Linked DNA regions of Homo sapiens: region 2 is linked to region 1. A link means that fine-mapping ties the variant in region 1 to the expression of a gene that starts in the linked region. Tissue or cell type: testis. Region 1 holds a variant in brackets; the other region holds the start of a gene. All regions are shown on one strand. Distances are between the middles of the regions.

Evidence for each region. PIP is the estimated chance that this variant, and not a neighbour inherited with it, causes the effect.
Region 2: MMP7 starts here. The variant in region 1 is fine-mapped to the expression of MMP7 in testis (GTEx, PIP 0.91).

Annotation. Positions count from the first base shown.
Region 1 is chr11:102,551,200-102,553,970 of GRCh38, reverse strand. No RefSeq gene overlaps it. Among named protein-coding and RNA genes, the nearest start is that of MMP7, 22 kb to the right of the region's middle. RefSeq lists an enhancer at 2,586-2,635. The variant C/T (reference allele first, on the strand shown) is at 1,629.
Region 2 is chr11:102,529,277-102,532,047 of GRCh38, reverse strand. MMP7 (matrix metallopeptidase 7) reads left to right here and starts at 1,301. Exons shown (of 6, transcript NM_002423.5): 1 at 1,301-1,455. The coding sequence starts at 1,348.

The DNA of each region.
Region 1 (2,771 bases):
TGAAGCCGCTGCCTTGTTTTGAGCTGCCCTATGGAGAGTCTCAGTGGCGAGGAATTGAGGACAGACTTCTGTACGGACCTGAGGTCATCATTCCAACAACACATGAAGAGCTGAATCCTGACAACAACTTCATTGGTAAGCTTGGAAGTGGATTTTCCCCCAAACAGGCCTTGAGGTGACCACAGCCCTGGCTGACTGCAGCCTTGTGAAATACCCTGAGACAGAAGACCCAGCTCAGCCACACCTGAACTCCTGACCCACAGAACCTGCTATAATAAATGTTGTTTTGGCTATTACGTTTTGGAGTGATTTATTATTAGATAACTAATACGTATGCATTTGGGAAAGTAAAGGCCTAAGAGTATATGGAAGTGGAATTGTTTGGCCATAATCTATGCATACGTTCAGCTTTAATATATACCACTAAATTGTTTTCAAAAGCAGTCATTGTCATGTACACTCCCAACAGCAGTGTGTGAGAGTTTTTATTGAGTTCTACTGAATGATCTTTGTTATTAAGCTTTTAGTATATGCCAGCCACTAAGTGCCTTACATGTGCTGTTTCATTTAATCTTCACAACAGTTCAGTGAGGTGGGTATTACTGTTTTCTCCATTTTCAGATTAAGTGAACCTGCCCCTGTCATTTACTAAAAAGAGGCAAGCCAGGATTTTAACCCATGTCCAATGCTCTTAGCCATTAAGCCTCTCCTGAGACAGATTTCAATGCAATTATAGCCACAGAGAAAACACATGTGAAAAATAACCATCATAGCGCACTAAAGGAAGAGCAGCATTTCATCTTGTGCATAAGTTAACCATCAGCACTGCACAGGGCTGATGAGGAGAAGAGGCTTCCAGACGGAGTTAGCAAAGGAAGAAAGATAGGCAATTTGGAAGGAGGGAAAGGATGGCCCAGGAAGGCTGGGAGGTAAAGAATATGCAAGCAAGGTCAAGAGCTCTATGCATTTGGCTCACTCTGCCCTCTGCATTTCCAGCCTCATGCAGCGATGTCATCCTTAGCAGTGAGTTGTCTACTTTTTCCGTAGCTCTCCCCAGAATAACACAGACCCCAGGGTCTTAAATGAAGGAGTGATTTTTCCAGATATTTCACCTTTCCCAAGGGAGAACACTACTCAGTTGTCTCTCCTTGGAACTCCTTCTTTTGCTGTTTATTGTTTCTGAGTGTGATTTTTTCCTTTCTTCCTCATTCCGCTGGTGCTTGTCACCACTCTGATGGGAATTCCTCTTAAAATGCCGGCAGTCTCTTTGATAAGCCTCGCCTTGCAGACCTAAGGTAAACTCCTGGAAGGATGCCCTGAACCTCTGGCTGTCTACCCACCTTCCACAACCCACAAATGGAGTGTTTCTGTGTACAGATCATCGGTTTTCCCCTCTTAAAACACTTGGACCTCCCCTGAGGGAAGAAAACCCTGGGAAACTCAATCACCCTCTTTGAGATCCAAGACAGGGCCTGGCCTTACTTTTTGGTGGACACTTATCTGAGCCAGCTTATAGCGTTACATTTTAGCTCAAGCGTCTCCAGATTTCCGCCTTTGAGGCCACACATTTCTCTAATATCCAAATACAATGACAAAATCCCCCATCCTGACTGGTTCTCTCGTTATCC[C/T]CTTCCTGCCAAAACAACACCAGCACCCAAATCCTTCTGAGAATACCTCTGTTAGGGGGATGCCTGCATTCTCTGCATTGTGTACACCATCTCCTCTCCAAGCTCCACCCCTGAGCATTGTCATGATTGTCTGTGCTTGTCACCCTTCCTGAGTCTGGAGTTCTTCAATGTGGACACAGCTCCTCCTCAACTCCATCTCACCTCTTCACAGTGTTGATGAGGGCAGCAGTTTCAAGAGGGAGATCACAGCAGAGGAGAGGAAACAATTTACAAATGAGTATCAGACCTCACTCTTGTAACCTTGCCTGGCCGTTCTCATCTCAATATTGTTTGCTCCTGTTTCTCTTCATGGGCCCTAGTCCCTAACAGTTGCTGTGGCCTCTTTTCTCTCCTCTTGTGTCTCTTCTCCCTTTTCCTAATTCTCCACATTCAGTGACCCTATAATACTCCTTGGGACCACTATGAAGAAGAGAAAAGGCCTATTGCTTTATTACATCAATCAATTTTACTTCCTTTGCCTCCATTTCCTATTTCCTGGATCATGACTTTCATAATCCCAAAATGCCATAAATTATATTCTCAAGAGAAAACTGTTCACTCTAGTCTTCCAACTTCAGTGGTAGCCTGGATCTCTGAAATTATTATTTTTTTAACAGCTTCAAATTTCCAGTTCCAGTTTCTTAGCTTCTTGGTAAAAGTACCTAGGCTTTCCCCTCCCAGGAGTTCGTAGGTAGAAGGAGAACTGTTAACACTCTAGTCTCCCCGTCTCCCGGGAGGCAAACACAGGGGCTAAGGCTCTTGTTTTATCCTCTTTCATGGGTAATACTGTGAAGGAAGGGCAGGATTTCCAGCCCAACTGTTGTAGCCATGAGTGAGAAGAATGTCAATTGAGAAGTGAGAAGAAAGCGTCAGTGTACAGGGGATGTAGACTGCTAAGCAATGCATTGTGACCAAGCACCACATGCCTGAGACAAAGCAGCTTCAAAGTCTCCCTGGCTATCTGTGAAAACTCCAGACACAAGCAGGATTTTGCAGCTTGAGAGAGCTGCCTACACGTTCTCTGGACTCCATTGGAGCTGCTATGGTCAACGTGCTATTATAAGGGATTCATGCTTCACTCCCAGAAGGGCCCTTGATGACATC
Region 2 (2,771 bases), 22 kb after region 1:
GCAAATTTAATTAACTGATCTGAAAATTTTACCTTTGCTGGCTCACAGTGCTCAATTACCATGTAATTGAAGTGATATGTGATTAATTAAATTTTTTAGCTCCAGCATATTTGGAGTGTTTCCCATGATGTATTAGAGTCAAAAGCCATGGTGTTCTCCCAAGTAATGTATAATATAATAAAAGAGACAGACCTATTACAAAATGAATAGGCAGTGCAGTGGGATAGAAAAAGCACTGAGCTACTATCTGTGTGAGCTGGGAGAAGTATAATAAGTTAAATTATCATCTTGGCCTCACTTTCATTTTTGGTAAGAATGGAGTCATTGGGCTAGAATCTGTAGGTAATGGATTCTTACTGCTATACGTAGAATAACCATTTTGTGTACTAAGGACCAATGCAGCCCTACCTGTAGCTGGGCAGCAGCCAGAGTCAGAGTGATTGGAAGAAAAAAATTGGATCTCCAAGTTGAAGGTCTAGCCTTGGAAGAATCTGTTACTATAAAATGAGAAGCAGAATAAGTAAGCCAGATGAAGAGTTAAACCCGTGCTTGTAGATTTTTGTTGGCTTGGTATTTTTTTGTGTTTAATTCAAGAAGAATTAGAGGCAGTGTTCCCCATTAAGAAAAGACATAAACTGATTAAAAGGAGACCCAAAGAAGGGAATTATCACTGCTCTGCTAAGGGACGTGGAAGGTGAGGGGACACAGCACAGTTGTATATAGAGTGGCCACTAATCCAGCCACACAGCAGCATTTCCATCTGCCTCCTGCCATCTTTCCCCTGTATGGAGAACCACAGGATTTTGGTGATGTTCTATTTCTTGACTTTGGTGACGGTTACAGTATTTGCTTAATTATTATTTCATTATTTACATGTTTTGTGCACTTTTCCAAACCTTTTAATTGTTAAGAATATATGGTACCATGTATTTAAGAATACATGGTACCATATAATAAGAATATATATTTAAGAATATATATTATTCTTTAAGAATATATGGTACCATAATGTCCTGAATGATACCTATGAGAGCAGTCATTTGACTTTGGCAAAAAAATGAGGTTTCTCATGGAGTCAATTTATGCAGCAGACAGAAAAAAAAATCCTTTGAAAGACAAATACATTGTGTGCTTCCTGCCAATAACGATGTAATACTTCCTCGTTTTAGTTAATGAAAAATAACACATACTTTCAAAGTTCTGTAGACTCTAAAAAGAAAGAAAACACTCAAATGAGTCACCTATTTCCACATTCGAGGCTGAGAAGCTATATAAATTTCTGCAGTCACTAGCAGAAAACACCAAATCAACCATAGGTCCAAGAACAATTGTCTCTGGACGGCAGCTATGCGACTCACCGTGCTGTGTGCTGTGTGCCTGCTGCCTGGCAGCCTGGCCCTGCCGCTGCCTCAGGAGGCGGGAGGCATGAGTGAGCTACAGTGGGAACAGGCTCAGGTATGTCACAGCCCACTTACTTAGGGTTCCATTCTTTTGCCATCTGCATTAAGAAATGTGTTTTTCAATTATTTCCCTTCCCATGTTAGCATTGCAGTGGAATTTTCTTTGGGGTGGTTCTTCGGATTATAAAAGCAATATATGTTTTCATCAAGTAGCCATTAAAAGCAGGTTTCAGAATCTGCTCAAATCGGGCTTGAGTTCCAACCCTCCACTCACTATGTAGATAGACTCAGGAAGGTCATCAAACTTCTCTAAGCTTCAGGTTTCCAATTTGGAAGTTGGAGATAAGAATGGTATCAACCAAATGAGGGTGTTGTGAAGCATTCAACACAATACCTGAAACATTGTTTAAATTAAGTTCTTATTTTTATTTATTATAACTTGAGATTCTTTTTCTATAGTATACAGAATATTGCCTCTTAAGATACAACCTGTAAATATACTGTTTGTGTATTTACAATACTGTTTGTAATGGAGATATCTGAAGTCAGAAAACATGGGTAGAAATTACAACTCTCCAACAAGTCAATGACAATAGACAAGGCATTAACATCTGACTTTGTTTTCTCATGTGTCCAGTAGAAAAAATAATATTATGTGTTTTATACCTCATGGGGTATTCTAGTAAGTAAATGAGGTGATAACAAAACCAACTAGCATGTATGTAACAATTGTAGATTATAAAGTACTTATATAGACATTGTGTCATTTAATCCTTAGTTCTATAAAAAGAGGAAACCAAAGTTAAACTGATTAGTGTACTTATTAGTGGTAGAGATAGAAATCAAGGACAAGTGCTTCTGGTTCAAAAATCATGTTCCTTGCAATATGCTTCTTAATAAGCAGTCTAATAAATATAAGCAGTCTACTAATTATTATTTGGTTAACTAATGGGATGATTACTTATAACTATTATTTGTAAATTTAGGCCTTAAGCATAAGAAAAGTCAATTTTTAATTCACATTAACTTAGACTTTTAAAAAGTTCCAGTTATAATAAGTTAGATTGAACCACATAAAGTTACTAGTATTTAACTTTTAAAATCTCCAAAACAGTAGTTTTATATGGTTCCACCTAATGAATTCTCCAGAAAGAGTACTCTGCGTTTAGTTTCTTTACTTAGAGTGAAGGTTGGCAGAAACTTAGTCTTCACTTGGAGGGATGTTAGCTAGGTTTAACAAAAAAACAGGAAAAGTCATCTCAACAAAGCAGAGAGATTTCTTCCAGAGGGTGTCTTGGTAAAGTCTGTAGCTCTAGAAGGGATTAAATGGGTTATTTGTTTTTAAATAAAGGATCAGTTATCAATTGTCAT